Homo sapiens: one gene and its partners. The protein of the gene in region 3 interacts with the protein of the main gene of each other region in a pairwise test. Each region holds a gene or a part of one and is shown on either strand. Other genes may lie near its edges. The genes, in order: RHOXF2, GSN, KHDC4, BANP, NRF1, SF1 and UBQLN1.

Region 1 (3,445 bases), on a different chromosome or scaffold from region 3:
ATAGCAATACCAGCAGGGATCGAGTCCCACTCATCAGCTACACCTGCACCCAAGAGTGGAAAAAGTAATATTACAGATAAAAGGAGAGAGACAAAGAAATAAGCCAAGCCAGAGCGTACGTAGCACATACTTGGAGCTCACTAGGGGAAAGGTGTGGTGGTCACCTTTCTAAGATATTTTAGTAGTAAGGAAGTAGCTTGTCTTGATACACCCGAAAAGGTTAAGGACATAGAGAGTTGCTTGTTGTGTTTTTTTCCATGATGAAATTAAATGCTCAGTATACTAAACCTGTTTCTTTTTTCCTCTGATTGAAGATTTGGTTTGAGAATAGAAGAGCCAAATGGAGGAGACATCAGAGGGCATTAATGGCAAGAAACATGCTGCCCTTCATGGCAGTGGGCCAGCCTGTCATGGTAACCGCAGCTGAGGCCATAACGGCACCCTTGTTCATCAGCGGGATGAGAGATGATTACTTCTGGGACCACAGCCATTCCAGCAGCCTGTGTTTCCCCATGCCACCCTTTCCTCCTCCGTCCTTGCCCCTTCCACTCATGCTTCTTCCACCTATGCCACCCGCTGGCCAGGCTGAATTTGGCCCATTCCCTTTTGTTATCGTGCCTTCTTTCACATTCCCCAATGTCTAAGGGATAGCCTCTGTGCCACTTTTTGCCAGAGTGTCTTTGAGCCAGATTCATATTTTGCATAGCACCCCATCAAAAGTAGTTCATCAAATGTCTATTAAACGTTTTAAAGAAAAGTACATCATTGACCCATTTTTAGGGCACTTGTAAAAATGTTTCTATAAATATGTGAAGGGTATGTACATTTGTTTTGTGTGTCACATGGGGTCAGTAAGTTCTCAATAAAAATTGTTAAGAAATGCCATTCAAACCGAATGTCACGGACTCTCGTCTCATGCAGTAATCTTGAGTCACCATCTGGGGGCTGTGCATGTCACAGAATTTTCCCATGTGCCCATGGCAGGCTTACACCGACCCAGACATTCTCTTCCACCCCCACCCCCAACACCCCATACTCATCTCCTCTCTGCCCCCATTGATACCAGGTACATGTGCAGGATGGGGTGGTGTGAGTCCCTAATGAGAGAATAGTGTGTTTCAAGTTACTGCCAGGGTGGAAAACAGCAAAACCAAAATGGTATCGGGAAGGAAGCCATGCCCACTCTTAAAAATTCATTAAGTTTTTTCTTGCTATGGAAGACTTCTTTAAAGTAATTTTCTTGTAAAAGTGTAAGTGTAAATAATGCCATGAAATTATACACTTATTTAATGGCTAAAATGGCAAATTTTTATATGGTTTACCACAACAAAAGAAAAGAAAAAATATACCAAAAAGTTTTTAAAAAGTGATCATGAACATTGTGGTCATCCTGTGAAGTGATTGCAATGCCTGCAGATAAGGAGTGATGGTTACAACAGTATTTTCTCTGAAAATTATTTGATGGCCAGTTTCATAATGATTATGTTTTCAGCCTGAAGGAAAATTCCATTTTCTTGGGTGAGCATGAACTTTCTGTCAGGCTGTCTGCTGCTTTTCATTCCCCACTTCTCTCTTCACAATTGTGGGTGTCAAGCTTCAGCCACGCAATTGCATTTGGTGTGAGGGTTTTGCAAGGAGAAGGAGGTTTATTCATACCCCTGAAGCCACAAGCCTTGGTGGGAATAAGGAAAGTCCATGAATTCACTATGCATTAATGCATGCCTCTTGGCCAAGTGGATTCTTTTTTCTTCTCCGATTGAGATTTTCCTTTTTTTTTTTTTTTTTTTTTTTTGCTCTTGTTCTCATTGTATTGTGCTTTGTATAATTATTTACAGTAAGTCGCGCATGTCAGTGTACATTCCGTCTGGAAATTGTTTCCATTTGGTACATTTTGTGCCAGTCGGTCTATTCCTGCTCATTATTTTGTTTTTTCTACATTCAGACTGAAACATTTGGTAGCCTAGAGATACTCAGAAATAGGCAAAGAAAGGTAAAAGGGGAGGAGGGGAGATTGAAATCATACTTCCATTATCCCTCCCCGTGGTTATCAGATTCATAAAATTTTTACACCATCAAAAGACATTTTTAGCCATATATGTTTCCTTTATGTAGAAAATGAGATCTCCTATACTCAGTTGGCATTTGTTTTCATGTATCTGATAAGTACCTGTTAGAATTATAGGTCAAGATGTTGTCTAGCTCTGGTAACCTAGATCCTGAACTTCAAAGCAGAGTTCTTGGACCTTAAGAAATTCAAATTCGTAGAATTATAGTTAGGATGTCATTTACTGACCTTGAACAACACATTGTTTAGGTAGCATACAATGGGACTAGTTCAAGGGGCTGGGTGGAGAACAAGTTACAATTTTTTCTGATGGAGAACATTACTGGAGACAGTACCCTTTAAAACTTTCATTCCCTTTTTATTAGCAGCTAACGTCTTGTATGCCTTTACTATGTGACAAGCAATAAAATAATGTCCTTGGATGATTTTGTTTGATGCTCAAATGAATCCTAATAGTGAGGTTCTAGCATCTTCATTGAAAGAAGAGGAAACTTATCCATGGTGCAAAGCTAATCAGAGGAACAGGATCTGAAGCCAAATTTGTCTGCCTCCAGAGCCCATGCTTTGTCAAGTTTAATTCAGCGGTGGTGCACTGGGATGCCACAGTTAGGGCAATCTGGCTTCCAATCCCAGATGCACCACTTCCCAGCTGTTTCCCCCTGGGCATTTTACTTAAGCTCTGTAGTATCATTATTATTCTCTATAAGATGATAATATTATATCACAGAATTGATGAGAGGGATAAATAACATATGTAAGTGGCCTTCCACAATGCCCAGCCAGAGTAAGCACACAGAAATGTTTTCTACTATTATTCTATATTATCTCCTATCATCATATTATTATAACCTGTTGTTCCACCTTTCCTATGTGGTATAACAGAAAGAGATCTGATTAAAAATAAGGTGGTCTGGGTTCTTGCTGCAGCTCTACGCTGTCTTTGTTACCTTGAATGAGTCGCTTAACCTACTATATCTCTGCTGTCTCATGTGTTAGGCCATTCTTGTTTTGCTATAAGGAAATGCCTGAGGCTGAGTAATTTATAAAGAAAAGAGGTTTAGTTGGCTCACAGTTCTGCAGGCTTAACAGGAAGTGTGATGCTGGCATCTGCTTCTGGTGAGGACCTCAGGAAGCTTACAGTCATGGTGGAAGACAGACTGGGAGCAGGCATCTCACATGGTGAGAGCAGGAGCGAGAGAGTGGGTGTGGGAGGTGCCACACACTTTTAAACAACCAGATCTTGTGATAACTCGCTCACTATTGCAAGGACAGCATCAAGCCATGAGGTTTCCACCCCCATGACCCAAACACGTCCCAACAGGCCTCACCTCCAACATTGGGGAAAATAAGGATTACATTTCAACATGAGATTTGGGCAGA
Region 2 (4,276 bases), on a different chromosome or scaffold from region 3:
CAGACAGCCCCTGCCAGCACCCGCCTCTTCCAGGTCCGCGCCAACAGCGCTGGAGCCACCCGGGCTGTTGAGGTAATTTCCAGGTCCTGGAACACAGAAGGGATTGGCCTCCCTGAAACCTCCCAGCTCAATGACCAGATCTCCAGGCACAGGAACGGGGGCAGGGGATGGTGAATGACGGGGTAAGAAGCAGCTTTTTGTATTTTCCTGCCGTGGCCACAGGGTTGTCTGTCTTAGACTCCCCCCTGTTTCAAGGATACCCAGTGTCCCTTGCACACTTTGCACAGTGGACAGCTCACTACCTACCATTCTGTACAATCAGCATGCCATTCCTGATTACGTTCCAGTTGCCTACTATCCCTTTCACGGAGGAAGGCACAGATCTGGACTTGATTCCCAGGATGGTCTGAGCAGCCTAGAGGGGAATGGGACTCTCACCTCCTTTGTTCTGGGCATTCAACTTCTGTTAATGCAGCCCTGATTTTTAGAATCATGTTGGCTAGTCACAGTGCATTAGTGACTCATGGGAGTCAACCAAGGCCATCAGGGTCCAAAGTCTGTGCCCTCAGCTCTGATGGGCTGTGTTCCTCCAAGTCCCCACCTGAGAGCTAGTCCTGCTGCGGGGTCTCCTGGGCTGTGAGGAGGGGGCTGAGGGCTTTTTGTCTGGTTCCTGATTAACCAAGCTGTACCCTCCCAGGTATTGCCTAAGGCTGGTGCACTGAACTCCAACGATGCCTTTGTTCTGAAAACCCCCTCAGCCGCCTACCTGTGGGTGGGTACAGGAGCCAGCGAGGCAGAGAAGACGGGGGCCCAGGAGCTGCTCAGGGTGCTGCGGGCCCAACCTGTGCAGGTGGCAGAAGGCAGCGAGCCAGGTAGGAGCCGGGGTGGGGGGCCTGCTGCTGTCCGGATGCAGCTATTAAGTTTCCCCCTTCTTTCCTTCAGCTTGGGGGCTCTAAATCCTCCCCTCCATCCCACCTGAGGGCCTGTCCCCTAATGTATGTTAAATAAAAGCAGTTGCATTAAAATGAGGGCTGTGGCCAGAGAGAGGGAGGTCTCCAGGAGCTAAAGAAAGGAGAGCCTAGCCTGGGCGTGGTGGTTCATGCCTGTAATCCCAGCACTTTGGGAGGCTAAGGCGGGCGGATCACCTGAGGTCGGGAGTTCAAGACTAGCCTGACCAACATGGAGAAACCCCATCTCTACTAAAATACAAAATTAGCCGGGCATGGTGGCACATGCCTGTATAATCCCAGCTACTCGGGAGGCTGAGGCAGGAGAATCACTTCAACCCGAGAGTTGGAGGTTGCGGTGAGCTGAGATCACGCTATTGCACTCCAGCCTGGGCAACAGGAGTAAAACTCTGTCTCAAAAAGAAGAAAGAAAGAAAGAAAGGAGAGCCCAGTGTGGGAAGGAGCAGTTGGTCTGTGGAAGGAGGCGGTCCCTCGCTAGGAAGCCTTGAAAGGTGGTAGGCAGGGCTGATAGCGTCAGAGGAGCAGTGGTCTCCTTGCATCTCTAGACTCTCCATGGACAGAAATGCCACCAGCCTGCTCTGTTTCCAGAATGTGGGCCGGGCAGCTCTTCCTTCTGCCAGCCTGCAGTCTTTATACTGTTACTTTGAGTTCATTCCCACCTGCTTGATGCTTAACAGAAATGGTGAAGAGTGACTTGGTCTAAAGCAGCTCTGTCCAGCAGAACCTTCTATGCAGATGGACATGTTCTGTATCTGCCGAGTCCAATTTGACAGCCATTAGTCACATGTGGCTGTTGAGCACTTGAAATGCGACCAGTGGGAATTAGTGGGAATGAAGAACTGAACTTTTAGTCGAATTTAATTTTAATGAATTTAAATTTAAATGGCTGCACATGGACAGAGCAGGTATAGTGGAAAGAGTATAGGTGTTAGAATCAGACAAGATTTGTATCCTGGTCTTAACACTTACCATCTGTGTGACCTTGAGTGAGTTGCTTAACCTCTCCGAGCCACAACTGCCTCATTAGCTGAGTGGAGCTAATGGTCCTCATCCCGCAATGCTGTCGTCAGCCTCAAGCCAATAGTGGTCCTGGCTGTGTGACTACTGCCAAGTCTGCCCTCTCTGGGCCTCTATTTCGTCACCTTCCAATTCCCTCAGGCCTCTTCCCTCTGGATCTCCTGGGATTTTTAGGATGGAGGGAGGAGAGGGAGAGCAGTTGGTTGCGCTTGGGCAGGGCTGGTCCCAGGGTCCGATGAGATGGGAGAGAGGGGTGATGGCGTCCCTTGGCAACTGGCGTGGCCTCCCCTCACAGATGGCTTCTGGGAGGCCCTGGGCGGGAAGGCTGCCTACCGCACATCCCCACGGCTGAAGGACAAGAAGATGGATGCCCATCCTCCTCGCCTCTTTGCCTGCTCCAACAAGATTGGACGTTTTGTGGTGAGCCCCTGCGGAGGTCACACCTCTGCTTTCCCCTCGGGAGGCGAGTTCCACAGGACTGGCCGGCAGCAGGGGCAGGAGAAACAGTTCTGATGGTGTGGCACAGAGGAAGGGGCCCCCTGCCAGCTGCAGCCAGCTGTGCCACTCCCTCAGGGGGCAGATAAAGGAAGGCCACCCAGGGGAGGGAAGACATCTCACTGATGCTCTTTCGTTCCTTCCCAGATCGAAGAGGTTCCTGGTGAGCTCATGCAGGAAGACCTGGCAACGGATGACGTCATGCTTCTGGACACCTGGGACCAGGTGGGTGAAGGACAGGTGAAGGCTCTCTGTGCCAGAGGGAGTGGGAGAAACTAGACTTCCAGTTCTATGATCAGTTGCTAGAAGGACCTAAAGGGGGCAGTGCCAGGTGTTGCCAGAAAAGTCTCTAAGGGTACTGGAAGTCACTTCTTCTTTCTGAGCTTCCATTTCCTCATCTGTAAACTGGGAGTGGCGGTACCTCCCTTGCAGATACACTCACCTTGAAAGCTGCAAAACGCCCTATAAAGGCAAATCACATGACCTTCATCATTCTCTCCCAGACCTTGCAGGAGCGTGAACTCTTCCTTTAAATCTGTTGGCAGAGGAAGTTGAACTTAGCAGCATCTTGTTTGCAGGCATAAACTGTCCAGTGTCACCTAGAGGCTCTAGAGGGCTCCTGCTTCTGGTTTGAGGGCTCTGGGCTCTGTCTCCACTTCATCTCCTAGAGAAGGCCATTATGTAGGACTTGGCAGGGGAAGATGCCATTCACTTACTCAACCAATATTAATTGGGCACTGCTTTGTGCCAGGTGCTTTATGTTTGAGATGCTGGGATAGAGCAATGAATAAAGTAGGCATTTTCCTGCTCTCCCAGGGCTTACGTTCTCACAGGGGTGTCAGGTCAGTCACCTTTCCTATCAAGGTGGCTTCTCCCAGAGTCCTCAGAGTTACGGAGCAGCTGGCCACGAAGGCATAAGACTCTACACTACCCACAGGGATGCTCGGAATCCCCAGTTGGAAGATCGGGACCAAAAATGATTGCAGCTTGAGCCATTCAGCAGTTGTCATTGATTGATCCATTGGCTACTTAATCTGTTTGTTCATCTGTTAGGGATTCAGTCAGCCAACATTTATTCAGCACCATGGTCTTGCAGGCAAAATGCTGAGTGCTGAGAATCCTATGATGAGCAAAATAGAATGCCTGCCTTCGAGGGGCTTCCACTTTAGTTGGGAACACATTTATAAATAAGTAAGAGAGGGCCAGACATGTTGGCTCACACTTGTAAACCCAGCACTTTGAGAGGCTGAGGTGGGCAGATCACTTGAGGTCAGGAGTTCAAGACCAGCCTGGCCAACATGGTGAAACCCCATCTCTACTAAAAATACAAAACAATTAGCCAGGCTTGGTGGTGGGTGCTTATAATCCCACCTACTTGGGAGGTCGAGGCAGAAGAATCACTTGAACCCAGGAGGCGGAGGTTGCAGTGAGCTGAGATCATGCCACTGCACTCCAGCCTGGGTGACAGAGTGAGACTCCGTCTCAAAAAAAAGTGAGAAAAATGAAGTCTGACATTTTATTGTCTAATGCCATTTTATCAATGATAGGTGCTCTTTGAAGTAATATTTTAGATATGCATAAAAATAGATGATACATAAAAATCAGCTAAATAATGTGTAATAGAACTTGTAACAAGACTCAAAATGGTGATAGTGGTGGGTGAGTTATTTTTATTCCAAGCCTTAGGCCCATTTTGACAAAGATGCACACAGACCGGCACATAGTAGACTCTCGGTGCATATTTGTTGGATAAATAAATGGGTGAGAATATGTTTGGCCACTCATTTGTTGAACGA
Region 3 (3,964 bases):
AGGGTTTCACCATGTTGCCCAGGCTGTTCTTGAACTCCTGGCCTCAAGTGATCCACCCACCCGCTTTAACCTCCTGAGTAGCTGGGACTACAGGGGCCTATCTCCCCAACCTATGTCTAGAAAATCTGCTCAAGAAGGTAACATACTGTTGTTTACTTTGTGCATTAAATACATTTTTTAAATGTGGAGGCAAAACTAAATACAAACTCAGCAATATCACCTTACCTTTATTTAACCCCTTATAGTATTCATTTACATTATCATCTCAATGAATCCTTATGGCCGCCTTTAATAGTACTTATCAATGTTGTCCAAGAGAACTTTTGGTGACAAGGGTTCTAGTCTATCAGTCGAATATGGTAGCCATTAGCCACATGTGTCTCTTGAGCACTTGGCAGGTGGCTAATGTGACTAAAGGTCTAAATTTTAAATTGTATTTTGGTTTTGCTTTGCTTTTTGCTTAAACAACAGGAATTTATTTCTCACAGATATGGAGCCTGAGAGTATTTAATTATTTGTATTATTTAGACAAGGTGTCACTCTGCTGCTCAGGCTGGAGTGCAATGGCAAAATGACAGCTCAATGCAACCTCAAGCTCCTAGGCTCAGGTGATCTTTCCACCTCAGCCTTCCAAGAATCCAAGAAGAATTACAGAGGAGCTGGGACTACAGGTGTGAGTCACCACACCCAGCCCCTTAATTTTAATTTAAATTGCCACATGAAGCTAGTGACTACTGCACTACACAATGCAGGTATATATTACCAACGAGAAAGCTGAGTTTCATTATGCCAAAGCCATGTAACCAGTAACTGTGGATTCTGGGTTTCAAACTGTGGATTCTGGGTTTTTAGGTTTTATGATTCTAAATCCAGTGTTTATGTATCCTGCTGAGGTCAACTACCTAAAGATTATTATTTTAAGAAAAAAAAAGAGCTTAAACGATTAACATCAGTATTAAAAATCTTAATATACAAGGAGCACTACATCTTTGTCAAGATGCTTTTAATTTTTCCTCATAAACCTTATAAATGGATGACTGACTCACACAATCTTTGCAAACAATAGGCTGCGCCTGGTGGCTCATACTTGTAATCCCAGCACTTTGGGAGGCAGAGATGAGCTTGGTCAACATGGTGAAACCCTGTCTACTAAAAACACAAAAAAAAATTAGCCGGGCATGGTGGCATGCACCTGTAATCCCAGCTACTCGGGAGGCTGAGGCAGCAGAATCAGAATCACTTGAACCCAGGAGACAGAGGTTGTAGTGAGCCGAGATCACCCCACTACTGCACTTCAGGCTGGTGACAGAGTGAGACTCTATCAAAATAAATAAATAAATAAATAAAACCCTACAGGTTCTAATTAGAGATGACACTATGGGGCTCACTTGATTTACCTGAACTCCTCTGACTTCAGGGAAAAAGCACATATATTAAAAACATGTTATGTTGCTTTAAATGACTATGGAAATACAGCTTAAGCTGAACTAAGTGAACAAGGACAAGACAAGGTATTTGGTCCATAAATGTAATCAGCCCAATCAAAAACGCCTCGTAAATATGTATTTGTAACAAAATGTGTTCTGGAACATTCCAAAACTAAATGATCTCTCAACTACTATATCCATTTATCCTTTACTAACACAAATTATTATGCGATTACAGGATTACAAACAACTTTTTTTTTTTTTTTTTGAGACGGAGTCTCATTGGGTCGCCCAGGCTAGAGTGCACTGGCACAATCTCGGCTCACTGCAACCTCCGCCTCCCGGGTTCAAGCAGTTCTGCCTCAGCCTCCTGAGTAGCTGATTACAGGCGCGTGCCACCATGCCCGACTAATTTTTGTATTTTCAGTAGAGACGGGGTTTCACCATGTTGGTCAGGCTGGTCTCAAACTCCTGACCTTGTGATCCACCCGCCTCGGCCTCCCAAAGTGCTGGGATTACAGGCGTAAGCCACCGCGCCCGGCAAAACAACTATTAAATTCGCAATTAGTGGAGACCCTTCAACTTCAAATACCTTCTCAGAAGCATTCTGAGTTGGTTTCAGCTTCCCTTTTGCCATGAGCATGGCATTAATCTTGGCAGCCACAGCAGCAGCAGCATCCAAGGCTCCTGAAGGAGCAGCTGTGGTGCCCCCAGGACTTCCCCCACTGCTGGTGACCTCCCCACCTGGGGCCGCTGGCGGGAGGAAGAGAAGTGGGGCTGGAGCTGGTTGGTCCCATTTGCTGCGGCGCCTACATGGAGAAAAAGGAAAACATTAGGCCCCAAAGCTTTCGTGTATGTTATTCTTTCCTTACTACGCCTTAGCACCCCATTTTCCCTCTATTATATTCCATTTACACCTCCGAATCACCTTCCAAATCTAAAACTCCCCTCTCCTTAAACAATTATTGCTTATTTAACAAACCCCCACTTTCAACCCTTCCCCAAAATCTTTCGTTTCTACTGTCACCTATATCGAAAGACTCCACTCTATCCTACACGCTCTAGTTTACGCCTTCCCCTTGGCTCGCCCTTCCAAAAGTCCCCGTTTGCCTCCTCCCTCGGATCCCCGCCGGCCCTTTAAGGGCCCCAGGCCTGCTCAAGATCCTTCTCCCCAAACGTCCAGCCCTTTACTTCCCACTTAAGGACCCTTCCACCCTATACGCAGCTTCTCAGGGTCCCTCCGCCTCTCCTGCGCCCCAGTGCTCGCTCCGATGCCCTCGCCCCTGAAGCCGTACCCGCCAGCTCCAGGATGTGTCGCGCTCCCCGCGGACATGGCGACCGCTTCTACTCAACCACCCGCCAACTATCCGACTACCACCTCTCGTCACTTCCGCCCCCAACGTTCTTACGCACAGCCTCTTCCGGTCGTGGGGCCGAGCGGTTCCGGTGAAAATGTCGATTCCGATTGGACTCTCGATGATTTAAAGGCATCTGGCGTTTCTGAGGCAGGTAGGGTGTGATCTTCCGGGTTGCGCCTTAACCTTAAGAAAGATGGCTGCTGTGCCTACTATAAATGCGGAATCGGGGCTAGCTGAATCCATCTTTATCGTGGGCATGTTGTTAGACTAGAAGACAATATGCATGAGTCAGGAGATTAAACAGGTTTCTCCTCAAATTCCGCTACGTTTGTGTTGAGTCCTAGTTTCTGTCTGGGGAGACAGCCTTCCCGCGGCTTTTGCCCGTTTCACGTTTCTGTTACTTAGGAAAAGGAAAAGGATTCGTTGCAAAGATCATTTGGAGAATTTCTCTGTTTGTTTGCTTCATTTCTGTGCACCAAGCAGGGAATATAAAAATAAAAAGATGAATAAGCCGCAGGCCCTGCCATTCTGGTACTCTCAATGTGGCAAGGCAGGTACGCAGGCAAATATGTATGATAGAGTTGTATATTAAGCAAAGGTCGAAGAAGATAAGCTGCTCATCTTGCTGGAGCGTTTAAGAATGGGACGCTAAAAAGCCGGTTGAGTACTGGAGAGGCGATCAAGCATAGGTTATGGAGCACCCTGTTCTGGCATCTGTGTACTTAACGGTTGAGCTGGCTGGAGTGGGAGGCCAGAAGATGAAAGGCCTTGAATGCTATGCTGAGGAGTTTGAGTTGATTCTGTAGGCTAAAGGTTTCTTTTTTTTTTTTTTTTTTTTTTTTGAGACAGTTTCGCTCCGTCACCCAGGCTGAAGTGCAATGACGCGATCTCGGCTAACCACTCTCCGCCTCCCGGGTTCAAACGATTCTCCTGCCTTAGCCTCCCAAGTAGCTGGGATCACAGGTGCCCGCCACCACGCCCAGCTAATTTTTTGTTGTTGTTGTTTTGTATTTTTAGTAGAGACACAGTTTAGCCATGTTGGCCAGCCTGGTCTCAAACTCCTGACCTCAGGTGATCCACCCGCCTCGGCCTCCCGAAGTGGTAGGATTACAGGCGTGAGCCACCGCGCCCTGCCGAGGCTAAAGGTTTCTAACCTTTAGGATGTCTTGGAGCTTCAAT
Region 4 (3,377 bases), on a different chromosome or scaffold from region 3:
TGTTTGCTCTGAACACTGGAGGCAGAAGGTGGCCCTGCATCCGGGAGCAGTCTTGGCCCCGCAGCCTCCGTGCCACCTGCTTTGGGAACGTGCCCAGCGGGGACGTTGTCCTTGTTCTACCTCCAGCCTGGTGGTTGGCTGCTGCCCAGCCCTTCTGGAACATTCTGGCCGCTGTCTTTGGGTCTGTTCCGCTCCTTTCTGTGGACCCAGCGCTGGTGATCCACCTGTGTCTTGATGCCATCCACCTTCAGTGCTTAGAATTAAAATCCTAGATGTCTGAGCAGCCTTTCCCTGCTCCCCGGGCACTGCTGAGGGCAGGTGTGCCCCTCAGCCCTCGGGAAGAGAGGGGTCCTCCTCAGGAGGCGCTTGCTGAAGAAGTGGGCTCGGTAGAGCTCACGCTCACCAGGGTGCGCAGGTCGCCAGGCTGGGCGGTTCTGCAGTCCCTCAGCCGCGACAGCCGTGTGATGATGTCAGTGCTCACCTGACGCTCACGTCTTCACAGCGGGGCAGCTGCGGGCCCAGAGTTTAAGGACCCGTGTCCTGTAGAAGGTCTGGCCCCTCCTCTGGCCTGAGCATTCCTGCTGTGCCCATGGGCACGGTGGCCCCTGCAGAGGCACGCCCTGTACTCTGCCCATGGGCGCGGTGGCCCCCGCAGAGGCGCGCCCTGTACTCTGCGTGGTGTTTGGTTCCACATTGTCGCCGACCTCACTGGAGATGCGCTGGAAGCACGGTGAGGGCCATGGGCGCAGAACGCACAGGCAGTGAGGAGCGGGTGGGTGGGATGGTGAAGGCAAACTCGTTCGGCAGCGCTTATTTTATGTGGTGTGAACCTTGGCCTGTCCGTGAAGAACAGTCAGGCGTGGCTGCCTCAGCCCCTGCCGAGGACGCGTGGCAGCCCCCCGTGCCGTTCCAGATAGGAGCGCTGCAGGAGGGCAGTGAGGTCCGCGCCCAGGAAACTAGATGTGGGGGCCATGCCTGAGGGCGTCCTGCTGCATTATAAGTTTCTGGTCATTTTCCGATTTCAGAATTGAACAAACCTGTGTCCCATGGTTGGTGTTTACACCCCTAGCTTCCTGTAAGCTCTCTCTGTTACCATGCCCTCCTGGCAGGCCCCAGGTGAATGATTTAATTAGGATCCATCGTAACAGCCAAGGAAGACGGCGTGCTTAAGGGGCCGCTTTCCCTGCAGAAAACCCCAGCGTGGTTGGACTTGGTGGTGAGCGGGTTTGCCCATCTGAGGCCAGACAACTGCAGGGTGCGTTAGCTTGTCACCAAGGGCCCAGCTCTCTGCCTTACCATCTCAGCTTGTCCTCAGGCTAGCTCTGCCCCACTGGGAAGTGACCGAAGGCCTTCATGGTGACTCTGCAGGCGTGACTGCACCCAACAGAGACAGGTTTCTGGTTGAGCCTCCTTATCCACATGAAGCCCCCACCCCAGTCATGCTTGGGAATGGTCTTGCATCTTGCATGGGTCAGAGCAGGGTCACGCGCTTGAGCTCGTTCTAGGAAAACCTGTGGCTCAGCTGTGAGGGCCTGGCTCTGAGAAGATGGGTTCCCTTAGGAGGGAAGGCAGGTAGCTGGCCTGTGGGGGTGGCCAATCCTCAAAGTGGAGAGTGGGGCCTGTTCCCTGGAGCAGTGGGTTGGGAGGGTAGGGGGGTGCCATTTGCAGGGGAAGACACTTGTCTTAATGCGCGGTGGCCTGTGGGTGTCACAGGCTCCCTGAACCATCTGTAGCAGAGGCAGCACCTCCACCAGCCTCTGCCCAGAACACAGGTCTGGCCACTGTCCTTGGAGGGCAAGTGAGTCCCAGCCAGCCCAGACCTGTGCCCCACTGTCCCCACCCACCCAAGTCCCCAGCTGCCTTTCCAGCTGTCTGGGGGAAGGGGCTTTGCATCCCAGGCGGTGGCCCCCCTACCCCAACCTCCCATGGCCTTCAGCCACCCACCCCAGGGCCCTGGTGTGGCTCCTCCATTCCAGCTGAGGTTCACCCCTTCCCGTTAGGCCTTCCCAGCTGTGGCCGGGCTCGCAGGAGACAGTCCTCATACTGACCCCTCATCCTACCCTGGAAGGCCCCTCCTCCATCCAGGGAACAGTATATCGAGTGTCATTTGACATTTGTCTTGAAAAAGCACAACCTGGACCAGGTGCAGTGTTTCATGCCTGTAATCCCAGTGCTTTGTGAGGCCGAGGCAGGGGCGTTGCTTGAGCCCAGGACTTCAAGACCAGCCTGGGCAACGTAGCGAGACCCCCATCTCTACAAAACGTAAAAAAATTAGCTGGGGCCGGGCACGGTAGCTCACGCCTGTAATCCCAGCATTTTGGGAGGCTGAGGCAGGCCAATCACCTGAGGTCAGGAGTTCGAGACCAGCCTGCTCAACCTGGTGAAACCCCATCTCTACTAAAAATACAAAAATTAGCCAGGCATGGTGGCAGGTGCCTGTAATCCCAGCTGCTCGGGAGGCTGAGGCAGGAGAACTGCTTGAACCCGGGAGGCGGAGGTTGCAATGAGTCGAGATTGCGCCACTGTGCTCCAGCCTAGGTGACAGAGTGAGACTCCGTCTCAAAAAAATTTAGCCGGGCGTGGTGGTGTGCACTGGTGGTCCCAGCTACTTGGGAGGCTGAGGTGGGAGGATCACTTGGGCCCATGAGGTCGAGGCGGCCGTGAGGTGTGCTTGCACTACTGCACTCCAACCTGGGCAACAGAGCAAGACCCTATCTCTAAAAAATAAAATGAAGCAGGACCTTAACTAGAGTAGAAGTTGCCAGGCCTCTTCCTCCCGTGGGCTCGGCCGTGGGCTCGTGGCTTCTCCTGGCTCTTCCTTTGTGGTTCCTGTGCCTTCCAGCTGAAGCTTCTGGGAGTGTGCACGGCAGCCCTAGAGTGGGCTCCTCCACCTGGGGCGTGTTCCGTGTGGCTGAGCTGGAGGATGAGTGACTTATTCCAAGACTGTATGTTTTTCCTTTACTTTTTTTTTTTTTTTTTTGAGATGGAGTCTGGCTCTGTTGCCCAGGCTGGAGTGCATTGGTGCAATCTCGACTCACTGCAACCTCTGCCTCTTGGGTTCAAGTGATTCTCCTACCTCAGCTTCCCTAGCAGCTGGGACTACAGGTGTGCACCGCCACACCGGCTAATTTTTGTATTTATTGTAGAGACGAGGTTTCACCATTTTGGCCAGCCTAGGCTTGAACTCCTGACCTCAAGTGATTCACCTGCCTCAGCCTCCCAAAGCCCTGGGATTATAGGCATGAGCCACTGCGCCCGACCTCCTTTAACTCATTTTAAGATAAAGCTGTGATTTCGTACTTGAAGTCCTTTTAATATCTGTAACTCGTTGACCAGAACCTGTATCTTTGAGGGAAGAATCATAGCTGCCCCGAAAA
Region 5 (4,686 bases), on a different chromosome or scaffold from region 3:
GCTTACTGGAAAATTTCTAGAAGAGTTTTAGGGTTATTTTCCCTTTTTATTAAGTTAAAGGCCTGTTTGTTTTCCTATATTTTATAATCAGCCACCTTATTGAATTCTCATTATTGTTTGTAGTAGTTTTTCATTTGATCTCTTTGGAATTCTCTAGATATAAGGTGACTTCATCTATAAATAATAATGATTTTATCAGCTCGCCTCTTATTTCTCTCTTATCTAATTGCATGGATTCCTACTTCCAGAACAGTGTTGAAAACACCCCGAGTTTGGCACCTTACATGCATGAAAACTGTAGAAGGGAAATAAGCTATAGTACCAGTAATATCTTGGGAAGCAGAAATTAAACTTAGGGGTAGATATTCTTACTCTTAGAGGAACAAGTCTACAAAATGCAGCCTAAGGTGCACTTTATCAACATATTTATAATTCTCAACCACCCATGGAGATATAGGAACCTATGGAAAACAGTGGGTTTTCATCAGTCACATCTTAGAATTCTCTGGGACCTTCCTGGAAACCTCTCTGTTTTATAAGGTTAGAATTTAAGGAGTCATAAACACACCCCAGATGTCTTTCATGAGTATTGATGACCACACTGTTCTCTTCCAGGCCCAGCTTCGGGCATTTATCCCAGAGATGCTCAAGTACTCTACAGGTCGGGGAAAACCAGGCTGGGGGAAAGAAAGCTGCAAGCCCATCTGGTGGCCTGAAGATATCCCCTGGGCAAATGTCCGGAGTGATGTCCGCACAGAAGAGCAAAAGCAGAGGGTGAGAGTTCCTCTGACTGAGTTGCCTGGTTGCTTTTCCATCCTAAATTAACCACCTCAATTTTTGTCATTTCTACATCTTGTGCTAGAAAGTCTTTGTGTAATAGTTAAGCCTGTCCCTCCAAAGACTGATATTCTTTGATTTATAGCCTTTTCCATTTGTCGCTCCATCACTATACTATAAAGAGAAGACTGGGTTGAGTTGATGAATTTAAAATGTGTCTTCGGGGTTGCCTTTTGGAGCAGTTTTAATTTTATGAAGTGCTTGGGAAAGTCAAAGAAACTTGAAGTAAAAGTATTAATCACTTTGAACACTTAGAAATGCTTTTATTTCTGGTTACTAAAAATCATTGTTGAAAATGTAAATATGGAATTAGAGGGATATGAAGTCTGCCAGCTGAGTCTGCTAATAACAAAACTTTTACAAGAAAGACTAAACTACCTACCATTCCTTACTTTTTTTGCGTATTTATTTTTCTTTTTCTTTCTTTTCTTTCTTTTTTTTTTTTTTTTTTGAGACAGAGTCTCACTCTTGTTGCCCAGGCTGGAGTGCAATGACGTGACCTCGGCTCGCCGCAACCTCTGCCTCCCGGGTTCAAGCAATTCTTCTGTCTCAGCCTCCCGAGTAGTTGGGATTACAGGCATGCACCACCATGCCCAGCTAATTTTGTATTTTCAGTAGAGATGGGGTTTCTCCATGCTGGTCAGGCTGGTCTCGAACTCCCGACCTCAGGCCATCCGCCCTCCTCAGCCTCCCAAAGTGCTGGGATTACAGGCGTGAGCCACCATGCCTGGCCACGTATTTATTTTTCATTTAGCTTGGAAGTTTACTGAGAATCTTAATATGCCATTCTTGATCAGAATAATCTTTCTTTGCAAGAAGTTTAAGAGTTTGGCCTCAGGTTGGAATAGGGTGTAAACTAGACTTTGATCAAGAAGAAACCAATGAGAAGCCCTCTTTGATACTTCGTACACAGCTTCTTTCTACCAGAACCAGTCTGTGGGAGGTAATCCTAGGAGAGTCTAATAAGAGGTTTGGTTTGGTTTGATTTGATAAAGAAGTAGCTGCTTATTGCATATTGGGACTAAATAACCAAAGTTCTTTGTGGCTTAATGTGCTTTTCCGGTCATTTGGTGACAGGTTTCATGGACCCAGGCACTACGGACCATAGTTAAAAACTGTTATAAACAGCATGGGCGGGAAGACCTTTTGTATGCCTTTGAAGATCAGCAAACGCAAACACAGGCCACAGCCACACATAGTATAGCTCATCTTGTACCATCACAGACTGTAGTCCAGACTTTTAGTAACCCTGATGGCACTGTCTCACTTATCCAGGTGAGTAAACCTGAGGGCTACCAGACTGTGGCTTCTGAGATGGATCAGTGGGCACCTCACCTCAGACTAGGGAAAGTTTCCTTTGTGCGAACTCTTGTATGAACTTTATATAGCTCCCCAAGATCTTCCTACCTGAAATTGATTTCTGAAGAATAGTTTAAATTCTTTGCATTTGCTAAATACAGAGCTATGAGTAGCTTCCTGGACATTTCCAAAACAAAGCACTTTTAAAGGGCTCTTTTTTTTTTTGAGACAAGATCTCTCTCTGTCATCACAGCTCACTGCAGCCTCAACCTCCCGGGCTCAAGTGATTCTCCCTCCTCAGCCTCCCGAGTAGCTGGGACTACAGGTGTATGCCACCAGGCCTGGCTGAATTTTTTTTTTTTTTTTAAGTAGAGATGAGGTCTTGCTATGTTGCCCAGGCTGGTCTCAAACTCCTGAGCTCAAGTGATCCTCCTGCCTCGGCCTCCTAAAATGCTGGGATTACAGATGTGGGCCACCATGTCTGGCCTTAAAATGACTTCTGTTTTACAGTTTCACTCTCAGTGATCAGGGAATATTCCTTCTGAATGACCTCTTCTGAGGTAAAACACAATTTGTTGATTGGGAACCTCTAAAGTTCAGATTGAGGTGAGAATAGAAAGTTGGTTGACCAACACTGGGCATGGATGTGGCGATGTGATAGCTTTTCTCATATGGACTTATTTGGTTGAAGTAAAATTCTGAAACTCGTGATAGTCTCTGAACTATGATTTTAGTGAGCTATGATTTTAGATTTCACATCATAAGGCATATTCTTTGTTATCTGTGCTGAATTTGGGATTAAATGAGTCTCAGCTTCTGAGTAAAGAGGTGGAAGGATCCATCCACTGACACTTAACCACTTTCCATATTTTTCTTTAGGTTGGTACGGGGGCAACAGTAGCCACATTGGCTGATGCTTCAGAATTGCCAACCACGGTCACCGTTGCCCAAGTGAATTATTCTGCCGTGGCTGATGGAGAGGTAAGAAAGAGATTCCATCTGCATCTTCTTAAATACTTGAATGTATAATGAGGGAAAAGCAAGGGTCCAGAAGATGGAGTAGCCTGCATGTCTGCGGCACTCTTTCATTTAAACCTTTTAAAGAGCATGAGACCATGAAAGTTTTAGAAAGTGTCTTATGCTATGTGTATTAATTGTAACAATTAAGATTCATGGATTAGTATGTCAGGAACTTAGAATTTTACATTTGAATGTATAGCATTTGGTATTATACACAATACAAAGGGATTATCCCTTTACCATTTTTATGCTGTGAATCCCAAAGAATTTCATCTTTGGTCTTTATGAAAAAAAAATGTCACATTAAAACTGGAACTGACTAAGGGAAGCCTTCTTTGAAAGGATAAATATGTTTGCAAGTCAGTAACATGATTTATTACATCTTAAATATGCCTTTGAAAAGATTTCTTAGGAGAATTCTTCCTTACCAAAATTGGGATAATTATGGGACATTAACCTAAAGACAGCCAACCTTTATTGATCACTTGGTGGGCTAAACACTCAACCCTATGAAGTATAAAGTTCTGTTATCTTCACTTTAGAGATGAGAAAACCGAGACATAACAGAGCTTAGATGATTTGCCCAAAGTCCCATAGCAGTGTTGAAGCTGGATAATGCATTGAGAAAAACATTACCTAGGCTCTGAGCCATTGGTGAAGATGCAACAGTGAAGGAAGGGGTTTGTTACGTCACCATGAGTGTTTCCCTTGAAGATACTGATGTGGTGTGCTGAAGTTTGAAAAATAGCCAACAGATGTCAAAGAGCAGTATCAGAAATAAAGCTAAGAGTATTATCTCACCCTTGTTGAGAGCCATGGAGCATTTCCCCTTAGAACACCACAAAGTCACTTTCATTTGTGCCCCTCAGGAGAGGGGGAGAGCTGGCAAAGGCCACATGGCTGGGAGATGGAGGGAGAGTGCACCACAGGCTCCTTGGCCACCCTGCATGTGCCAAACCCCTGTGTAGCTGCAGCTGTGTGGAGTTGATTCGCACAGGATCCTTGCTGTCATGGGACTCCAGTCTAGTGGGGAAGAGAGATGTCTACGTGAATGAACTCTAGCCTTCCTGTAAGGGATGCTGCAAAGCGTATGTGCCTCCTTTCCACCTAAGGAGCCTGGGAAAGTTTGGGACACTGAAAAACTTGGTTATTGGGTGAGGAAAGGTGAAGGTTGACAGGACACTTACTTTCTAAGTATATAAACATCATTAAAGGATATGGATTAGCAAAGCAAAGAATTTGTCAGTCCCAGAACACTAGAACAAGATGACACTCCTTAAAGTCTGAAAGAGGTGGAAAAGACAACGAGGGGTACAGTTAGGAGATGTGTTAGTTTTTGGCTTAGACAAAGTTATCAACCATATGTCTCTACTGAATGTTTCTTGGTACTATTTAAAGAAAGTAACTTCGTTTCCTTCTGTATAAAATAATTTGTTTTTGACACATAATATTTATAACATTAATGGAGTTGCGTTTCCTTTTTTTTTTTTTTTTTTCCTGAGACGGAATCTCACTCTGTGGCCCAGGCTG
Region 6 (4,686 bases), on a different chromosome or scaffold from region 3:
AGCTAAAATTGGTCATTTAATTAGAAGGGCAGTAAGTCTCTCCCTCTCACTGAATTTTCTCTTAGTACATACAGAATAGTTGAAAAGACTTTGCTTTAAAAAGTAGTGTTTTTGGTTTTTGTTACCCAGTTAATAGCTTATTAAATCAGGAAGATGATGTAATGGCTTTAGAAGTCACTCACTCATGCATCTTTCTTCCGCCCTTTGCCAGGAAACATTAACTTCCTTGTTTCTCCATATTGACTCTTTAATTTGACTTACTACATTTGCTATATTTTACCTATAGATAGATTTTGGTTGTAGGGTTGTGTTGTGTTTCGTTTCTTTTTGAAGATTTTTTTTTTTTTTAAATTTACATTGTAGGTCATAGACCACAACTGTTTAGTGCCTTTTTGGCCTTTTTCCCTTTAATAATATGTCTACAGGTCACCAGTCAATTCCTCCAAAGGTTGAATTTTTAACAAACCTTCTTTGCTTCCTGGATAACTGGGATTAGAATTTAGTTGATCTAGCCGATGCCTGTTGGAGGTGAAGAAGTCGGGCCAGTCTAACCTCTAGAATACTAGCTTTTGCCTTTCACTTCTGCAATTTGGGAGGAGGTTAAACTGTTGTGAGGCCTTCACATGGCCAATTGGGTGCTGGTAAGACTTGTTTTTGTAACTAGCTAAGAATGCTTAATTCTAGACAGCTGTGGGGTGGGAATTAGAAATGTCAAGCATGTTAGAAATAAAACCAGAGCAGGGTTTTTCCTCCCTTCTATTCAGTTTTGAAAGAGGCCCTAATGCCTGATTGGTTTTGCTTTTGAGCCCAGGTTGGAGGGAAATGCATGGGTTTTCTTAATTAAGATAATTTCTTAAAAAGGTGTTATATCACTTAAGCCACTTTATTGTTATTTTGATGCTGCTTAACTTGCACAGTAAAAACATGTTTAAAACTTTTCTTGTAGACTTAAATGTATAAGATGGTAGTCTAATGAGCTGGGGTATGTTTGCTTTTGTTCACTCTTAATGGATTGTGCTAACAGTTTATACAAATGCTAGAAACGGAGGTGTCATTTAGCCGTCATTAGCCATGAACAAACCTGACCTTTTATTCCATCGTGTGTGTAACGTGGTGTGACATGGTTCCCTTTAGGCTGAAGACAGTGGGAGCAGCCGAGTTCAGTCCTTGCTCTCCAACTAGGCAAGGTTCTCTCAACTAAACCAAGGGTATAGGAGTCTTGATTACTTTCAGTATGTTTTTTTAATAACCTGATCCACATGGTCTCTTCCCTTCTTGCAGCTGCTACTAAATTTTCATTCAGAATATCAAGCTATGGTCCTTTTTGTAATCTTAACTCAAAATTCTAGGAGTGTAACCTCTCTTTTTTATTACCGCAAAATCCAGCTGTGGTAAACTGACCATTTTATCATTACATTTTTTTACTTGTAGCAACAGCATTTTACTCCTTAAAAAAATGAGAGAGAGAAAATCTGCTTTCTGGACTTGTAAACTCTGGTGGAGAATCATAGGTTTTCCCCTTGCTGTTTGCAGGTTCAGACCCTAGACAAGTATGACCAAATCTGCATTTGCAGCCTCTCGCAGAAGCTGCTTTAGCACTTTAACGTTTTTCTCTACCCAGACTCCCCAACCTCGAACAGCCAGAAAACAGGTTGTCTCCTGGGCCTTGGACACAGCCAGCCAGGCCATTGAAGGAAAAGCAAAGACGAAGCGAACCATCTCTCTCCATTGTGGGGGCCAAGTAGCTGCAGTAGCCTTCAGTCCCAGTTGCATTGGGTTAAAGAGCTCATACATACTATGTGTTAGGGGTACAGAAGCTTTTCCTCATAGGGCATGAGCTCTCCAAGAGTTAACCTTTTGCCTAAACTTGGGGTTTCTGTGGTTCATAAAGTTGGGATATGTATTTTTTTTCAAATGGAAGAAAATCCGTATTTGGCAAGAAGACTCCAGGGGATGATACTGTCCTTGCCACTTACAGTCCAAAGATTTTCCCCAAAGAATAGACATTTTTTCCTCTCATCACTTCTAGATGCAAAATCTTTTATTTTTTTCCTTTCTCACACACACCCCAGACCCCTAACGTTAAGCCAGCTTCCATCTCCCCATTCCACACGATCTTGAGTAGCACACGTTATGGTCGGTTCCTCCGAAGAGTGTTGTATTAGGGTCTGAGAGGCAGAGGGGCTGGGAAAGACTTGTTATAGTCCGTGTGGGAATGAGAGAAGTCGGTGCAGAATAGTAAACGGGAGTCTGTTTCCCACAGGTCCCCTTCCCCTGAGCCCATCTACAATAGCGAGGGGAAGCGGCTTAACACCCGAGAGTTCCGCACCCGCAAAAAGCTGGAAGAGGAGCGGCACAACCTCATCACAGAGATGGTTGCACTCAATCCGGATTTCAAGCCACCTGCAGATTACAAGTAAGCGGAGGGGCTCGGTCATCTGGGATGAAGACACATGCAGATCATGGGTGACCTGCTGGGATGGGACAGTATTGGTACTACTCACCTCTTGCCTCAAGTCACCCATAATTAGCACTTGGTACCAATATTTGGTTTTAGAAAAGCCGCTGGCTGTGTCATTCTCCAGAAATGTGCGGTGACACAGGCTTTTCTTTCTTAGACCTCCAGCAACACGTGTGAGTGATAAAGTCATGATTCCACAAGATGAGTACCCAGAAATCAACTTTGTGGGGCTGCTCATCGGGCCCAGGTGAGTAACTGCTGGTCTATAGGATATAGAATTCCTTTAGAGCCTGTGAGATGTGTCCGTTTTGTGCCTAATTGGGGACTGTTGGCTTACTTTTCCCCTTTTTGGTAGGACATTTCATTTTGGCTGAATTAATGCCTTTCTGTGAGAAGGTGTCTTAACTTCCCCACTAGTGCGGAGAAGTCAAATCCTCAGGTTTACTGTGGCTGACCATAATATAGAGTTCATGGAGCTCTTGGTGGGAAAATCCAATTCTCTGCGCTTGTGGTTTCCCACCAATGCCAAATTGGTCCAGCCTCTCTTCCCTCTTGAGTGTGAATTTGTCAGGTATAAACTTAGTCATTTCTGCCTCTCTAGAGGGAACACCCTGAAGAACATAGAGAAGGAGTGCAATGCCAAGATTATGATCCGGGGGAAAGGGTCTGTGAAAGAAGGGAAGGTTGGGCGCAAAGATGGCCAGATGTTGCCAGGAGAAGATGAGCCACTTCATGCCCTGGTTACTGCCAATACAATGGAGAACGTCAAAAAGGCAGTGGAACAGGTGAGCGGTGAGCCCAGAAAGGAAGCCTCCTAGCAGAAACCTAGGTGGAGGCCCTAAGCACTTAACTGTCCATTGCATTTTCACTAGATAAGAAACATCCTGAAGCAGGGTATCGAGACTCCAGAGGACCAGAATGATCTACGGAAGATGCAGCTTCGGGAGTTGGCTCGCTTAAATGGGACCCTTCGGGAAGACGATAACAGGTATGTGATCAGTTTAAAGGAGAGTGTAGAGACCTGAAGAACCTATGGAAGTAGAGATTGTTCCCTTGCATTGACCTCTTTTTCCTTTAATAGGATCTTAAGACCCTGGCAGAGCTCAGAGACCCGCAGCATTACCAACACCACAGTGTGTACCAAGTGTGGAGGGGCTGGCCACATTGCTTCAGACTGTAAATTCCAAAGGTGAGGGGCTGGCTCTTGCGGTTTCCTGGTAGCCTGCGATGTGCAGGACAACTTTTCTGGCACATTCATTGGTTGCTGTTAATCTTACCAAGAGAAACATCCTTTCTGTTAGTGTGGTCTGTAATGGTGTGATTTAAAGCCCAGGATGATTAGAAATAGGCTGTACAGATACCCCTGTTTGTTTGTCTTGAGCCCAAGAAAACTGGAAGTTTCCATTTTGGGTATGTTTTTACTGGGGCTCAATAGGAAATTCACTGCTTTTGCTGTTCAGAATTGGTTCAAGAAGACTAAGCAATCTCTACAGATTTCTGACCAGTTGCAAGTCAGCACTCGATATCAACACTTTCTGACTGGCTGGCGAATATGTAAGGTTTTGTTTAGGAAGTTCGTTCTGGCAGTTGTGCCAGTCTTGCATAGATTTTCCTTTCCTCAAACTGGGAATGAAGTTTGATGAAATTGACTTGAGAGAACCTGTGCTTCATCGGTGCTCAGGGTCTCCTGTGCTCTTCGCCCAGGGGCCCCTCTACTCTGGTGATCCCAGATGCAGAACTGGGCACGAAACTGAAGATCTGATGAGACTGTTGAGAGCCATGCCCAGTAAGGGGTTAGAAAGATGTGTGATGATCTGGTGATTGAATTCTTCAGAACTTTCCATATGTTGGTTCCTCAGGATAAAAGCTTCCTTCTTAACAAGTTTTTCCCCTTTCTCTGTTTGTGTCCCCCACCCCACTTCAGGCCTGGTGATCCTCAGTCAGCTCAGGATAAAGCACGGATGGATAAAGAATATTTGTCCCTCATGGCTGAACTGGGTGAAGCACCTGTCCCAGCATCTGTGGGCTCCACCTCTGGGCCTGCCACCACACCCCTGGCCAGCGCACCTCGTCCTGCTGCTCCCGCCAACAACCCACCTCCACCGGTGAGCCTGGGGGCTGGCTCTCTTGGTCTGGCTTCCCCATTCTCTACTGCAGAGACTGGGAGCTATGGCCACGTGGTTTGGGTAGAGCAGACAATGGATGTGGATGGCAACATTGTTCTT
Region 7 (4,686 bases), on a different chromosome or scaffold from region 3:
TTTTGTGAGAAACTATGTTTTAAAAAATGCTTCTGGGCCGGATGCGGTGGCTCACACCTGTAATCCCAGCACTTTGTGAGGCCGAGGCGGGTGGATTGCCTGAGGTTCGAGACCAGCCTGGCCAACGGGGTGAAACCCCGTCTCTACTAAAAATACAAAACTTAGCTGGGCGTGGTGGCAGGCACCTGTAATCCCAGCTACTGGGGAGGCTGAGGCTGAGGCAGGAGAATCATCGCTTGAACCTGGGAGAGGGAGGTTACAGTGAGCCGAGATTGCGACATTGCAGTCCAGCCTGGGCAACAAGAGTGAAACTCCGTTTCAAAAAAAAAAAGGAGTGCTGGCTTCAGCAGCACATATACTGAAAAATGCTTGTATCATTTTACCATCCCGCCAATGAAGATACATGGGAGTTCCTGTTGCTCCATATCCCTGCTAACATTTTGATATTGTCAGTCTCTGTAATTTTAGCTATTTTAGCGGGTGTGTAGCCATATTAAGTTTTAAAGCTCTCGGATCTCTTTTCTAGGATTCCTAATTCATGCCTCCACCATCCTGGGTGCTTTCAGCATTTTACTGCAAAAGATTAGAAATAATCAGTATTTTATAAATAGAAAAATTCCTTTCAGTCAATATATGATGTTATAGCTGTGAGGATGTTTTTGCTTTTTGTGATGTTAAAATTATAAATTCTGTGAACGCTTTTATTTTACTCTGCTGTAACCAAAGTGAGATTTTTTTTTTTTTTTTTTTTTTGAGATGGAGTCTCTGTCACCCCCCAGGCTGGAGTGCAATGGCATGGTGTCGGCTCACTGCAACCTCCCCTTCCCGGGTTCAAGGATTCTCCCACCCCAGCTTCCCTAGTAGCTGAGACTACAGGCGCATGCCACACCACACCCGGCTAATTTTCCTATTTGTAGTAGAGACAGGGTTTCACCATGTTGGCCAGGCTGGTCTCGAACTCCTGATCTTGTGATCCGCCTGCCTCGGCTTCCCAAAGTGCTAGGATTACAGGTGTGAACCACCGGGCACCCGGCCCAGTACGAATTGTTAATAGATAAAATTAAAGTCTTTCTGAAGTAGCCTTTTCTGATGGTAGTTTATTTTTAAATTCTTGATCATTGTTTTATGTTGAAGCAGAAAATGTGATAAAAATTGACGCTTATCACCACACCAGAGAACCTGTAGACAAGTTGGGCTTTGTATATGCAAGGGAAACAGATACAGGAAAATGTGGAAGAAAAAGAAAAGCAGTTTTCAAATGACCTATTTGTAAAATCTACTTGAAGCACAAAAGATATGCCATTTTATAATTTAAAAATTTTAAAGGGTTTGATTGAAACTGTTTGTTACAAATGAAAATTTGTCATTAAAAATACTTAATGACATTAAAATTCCACTGAAAGTGTCCAGTTAGAAATTGGGAAATATTTAGTCTTTAAAATTTGTACCTAATTTTGGAGGGTCAGAGGGTAAGCCGAAGACCTCCAGAGGATAATATTGAAGGCTTATGCTCTGTATCAGACAAATTCCGTTTTCTATAAGTTAAAATTTCTTTCAATAAGTATTTCTATGTAATGTAGATTCCTTAACACATTATACCAAAATTCTGTTTATATGAACATGCTGTAATAAGTGATTAGATGAAATTACGTTAAACTTCTTGGGTAAATTGTAAGGTGGTAATTTATTTTCCTATTTTTCCATTGGTTTCTGGTCGTGAGTACCAACAGGCAGAAACAGGTTGCCTTAATTTTTTACAGTGCTATATACATTTGGTATTTAATAATGTTACTTGTTCAAGGTTACTAATAAAGCTTAAGCTTTTTTCCAATTTAGAGTGAAATTTATTATTCACGGAGCACTCAGAATCAACTGAGTAACATAAATTTTTACTTACAGGTTGCTAGAATAGGTAGTGAGAATATAAACTGCACTGTGTACATTCCAAGGTGCTGTCATTAATAGAGATTTTTGTAATACAGGTTTTGAGTATCCCTTATGGGAAATGCTTGGGACCAGAAGTGTTTGGGACTTTGGATTTTCTTTTTTTTTGGATTTTGGAATATTTGTATATACATAATGAGATATCTTGGGGATGGCACCTAAATATAAACATGAAATTCAGTTATATTTCATGTACATTTTATGCACAGAGCCTAAAGGTAATTTTATACAATATTTTAAATAATTTTGCGAGTGAAACAAACTGTATACATTGAACCATCAGAAAGCAAAGGTGTTACATATGGGATTTTTCCACATGTGATGTCATGGTGTTAAAAAATTTCAGATTTTGGAGCATTTCAGATTTCATATTTTTGGATTGGGGATGCTCAACCTGTATGTAAGTAAATAGATACAAAAGCATAAATGTGTAGTGGCACAAAGTCCCTGTGTATGAGATTTTTTTTTTTTGGTTAATTGTTCATCATCAGCTATTGAAAAGAGCTTTGAGGATTTCCAAGTATCCACGAGCAAGATAACATCTAGAAGAATGGAGAGTTATATATGTGAGACATTAGTGCAGATAATGGAGGGGAGTTTCTGTGTAACTTCTAATTAGCTTATTCTGGGATTTCATAGACTGTTAGGTTATGTGTAAAATTTTGAAGTACATTTACTTGAAATGTTCAGGCAGTATATACTCTGGTTTTAGAAAGTGCCTTCTGTCAGTGCAAACTTCTGGGAAAATATTAATATACTTAGACATAATTTAAACGTATTGAGTCAAATTGAGCCTTTCTTTGATAAGGCAACTTGCCTTAGGGTCATCATCACACACATGATTTAACGTTATACTGTATAGTGTGGATCTAGAACTATACTGTCCACTTTGATACCATCACCCACATGTGGTTAAGTACTTAAAAAGTGAGATGTGTTAAGTGTAAAATTTATACCAGATTTTGAAAATTTGGTATGAACAAAATAAATATCTTAATACTTTTGATATATTATGTATTGAAATAGTATTTTGCAGATCGTGAGTTAAGTAAAATATCAAAATTAATTTGACCTTTTATTAAAAACTTTTTTTTCAGTATGGCTGCTTAAAATTTTTAAATTACTTGTGGCTTATATATATTTCTGCTGGACAACATCTTATCCAGAAGGTTGGATTGAATCAGTATAGCAAGATATCTGAGAAAAAAAATGTCTGTGAGATCATTGTTTTCTTATTTGCTTTGTTCTAATACTGGACAGCTGAAAAACTCGTTATTTAATGATTCTGATTAACAGAGATTGCTTAGCTTTTTTTAAGAAAGAGCGTAATTGAAGTGTAATTTGCCTACCATACAGTTCACCATTTTAAAGTCTGTAATTGATGTAATACATTCACAGGGTCGTGTAGTCAATTTTAGAACGTTTAGAACCCTCAAAAAGAAACGCTGTACCCTTTAGCAGTTGCCCTTCGTTTCTCCCTGGGCCCCCCAGCCTTAGGCAACTACTGATCTATTTTTTGTCTATAGATTTGCTTGTTCTGGGCGTTTGTTGTAAGTGGAATCATGTGGTCTTTTGTGATTGGCTTTCACTTAGCATAGTGTTTTCAAGGTTCATCCCTGTTGAAGCATGTGCCGGTACTTACTTCCTTTTTATTGCCGAATAACATTCCATTGTGTTGCCAACAGCATTCCACATTTTATTTTTCTATCACGTGGTGGACATTGGGTTGTTTCTACTTTCTGGCTATTGTGACTAATGCCTCTGAACACTCATGTATAAGTTTTTGTGGGGACATAACGTTTTCATTTTTCTTGGGTGTAGATCTTGGAGTGGAAATTGCTGGGTCAAAGCTCTATGTTGAGCTTTATGAGGAGCTGCCAAATTATTTTCTAAGGTGTCTGTACCATTTTACATTTCCACTAGCAATGCATGAGGATTCCGATAACCACATTCTCGGTAATACTTATTACTGTCTTTGTGATTATAGCCATCTTACTGGCTGTGAAATGGTATCTTACTGTGATTATTTTGCTTTTTATTTTCATTATTATTTTTGCTGGGGGCACTCTGAGGAAAACTGGACAGCCTGCTAGACAAATTTGCTTTTTGTTATCTGAGCAGTAGTTCTCACTGTGGTTTGGGGAGTCCCCATACCCTGTTAAGGGTACCATGAGATGAAACTATTTTCATAGTAATTCTGAGATGTTATTTTTATTTTTCAGTCTAATTTTCTCAAAACTGGGCAGTGCACTTGGCTAGAGTCTTTAAGGTGTGGGATATGACAACAGATGTGAAAATCCAGCTGTCTTCTATTACAAGACTAAAGTGATTTCCAAAAATTTAAAATAATGCCACTCTTATCACTGAGAAAATAGTTATTTTTCATAAGGATGTTATTTTTATTAATATATAATGTATTATTTTTAAATGAATTTATTTTTAAAGGTTATTCAGTTTTAATTTGTAATATTATAAATATCAACAGCTATAACCTAAACAAGCAAAACTCTTTGGAGTTCTGAAGTTGTAAAATGGTGTCCTGAGAGCAAAAATTTCTGTGGTGGCGTATTTTATAGATTACGTACTTAAAATATCGGGTAGTGGCTCCAATAAGTTGCCATTACCTCTTGCCTAGAAACTGCAGTAGCCTACTGGTCAGTTGCCTGACTTCTATAACTCTCCCACCAGCCATTCCAAGAGTGATCTCTGAAAAACGTTAATCAGAGCATGCCACCCTCTGTG

Evidence for each region.
Region 1: the proteins of KHDC4 (region 3) and RHOXF2 interact in binary tests that used the Homo sapiens proteins (3 or more experiments, as listed by UniProt).
Region 2: the proteins of KHDC4 (region 3) and GSN interact in binary tests that used the Homo sapiens proteins (3 or more experiments, as listed by UniProt).
Region 4: the proteins of KHDC4 (region 3) and BANP interact in binary tests that used the Homo sapiens proteins (3 or more experiments, as listed by UniProt).
Region 5: the proteins of KHDC4 (region 3) and NRF1 interact in binary tests that used the Homo sapiens proteins (3 or more experiments, as listed by UniProt).
Region 6: the proteins of KHDC4 (region 3) and SF1 interact in binary tests that used the Homo sapiens proteins (3 or more experiments, as listed by UniProt).
Region 7: the proteins of KHDC4 (region 3) and UBQLN1 interact in binary tests that used the Homo sapiens proteins (3 or more experiments, as listed by UniProt).

Annotation. Positions count from the first base shown.
Region 1 is NC_000023.11:120,163,144-120,166,588, forward strand, and holds the end of RHOXF2 (rhox homeobox family member 2), read left to right. Parts: intron 1-314; coding exon 315-644; 3' UTR 645-2,487; downstream 2,488-3,445. UniProt on the Homo sapiens protein: Transcription factor maybe involved in reproductive processes. Modulates expression of target genes encoding proteins involved in processes relevant to spermatogenesis.
Region 2 is NC_000009.12:121,326,611-121,330,886, forward strand, and holds part of GSN (gelsolin), read left to right. Parts: coding exon 1-72; intron 73-697; coding exon 698-872; intron 873-2,280; coding exon 2,281-2,405; intron 2,406-2,627; coding exon 2,628-2,705; intron 2,706-4,276. UniProt on the Homo sapiens protein: Calcium-regulated, actin-modulating protein that binds to the plus (or barbed) ends of actin monomers or filaments, preventing monomer exchange (end-blocking or capping).
Region 3 is NC_000001.11:155,931,614-155,935,577, forward strand, and holds the start of KHDC4 (KH homology domain-containing protein 4), read right to left. Parts: upstream 2,801-3,964; 5' UTR 2,761-2,800; coding exon 2,723-2,760; intron 2,237-2,722; coding exon 2,020-2,236; intron 1-2,019.
Region 4 is NC_000016.10:88,072,785-88,076,161, forward strand, and holds part of BANP (protein BANP), read left to right. Parts: intron 1-3,377. UniProt on the Homo sapiens protein: Controls V(D)J recombination during T-cell development by repressing T-cell receptor (TCR) beta enhancer function. Binds to scaffold/matrix attachment region beta (S/MARbeta), an ATC-rich DNA sequence located upstream of the TCR beta enhancer.
Region 5 is NC_000007.14:129,708,460-129,713,145, forward strand, and holds part of NRF1 (nuclear respiratory factor 1), read left to right. Parts: intron 1-615; coding exon 616-774; intron 775-1,914; coding exon 1,915-2,112; intron 2,113-3,015; coding exon 3,016-3,117; intron 3,118-4,686. UniProt on the Homo sapiens protein: Transcription factor that activates the expression of the EIF2S1 (EIF2-alpha) gene. Links the transcriptional modulation of key metabolic genes to cellular growth and development.
Region 6 is NC_000011.10:64,767,986-64,772,671, reverse strand, and holds part of SF1 (splicing factor 1), read left to right. Parts: intron 1-2,263; coding exon 2,264-2,416; intron 2,417-2,618; coding exon 2,619-2,708; intron 2,709-3,062; coding exon 3,063-3,246; intron 3,247-3,333; coding exon 3,334-3,449; intron 3,450-3,542; coding exon 3,543-3,650; intron 3,651-4,385; coding exon 4,386-4,566; intron 4,567-4,686. UniProt on the Homo sapiens protein: Necessary for the ATP-dependent first step of spliceosome assembly. Binds to the intron branch point sequence (BPS) 5'-UACUAAC-3' of the pre-mRNA. May act as transcription repressor.
Region 7 is NC_000009.12:83,700,892-83,705,577, reverse strand, and holds part of UBQLN1 (ubiquilin-1), read left to right. Parts: intron 1-4,686. UniProt on the Homo sapiens protein: Plays an important role in the regulation of different protein degradation mechanisms and pathways including ubiquitin-proteasome system (UPS), autophagy and endoplasmic reticulum-associated protein degradation (ERAD) pathway.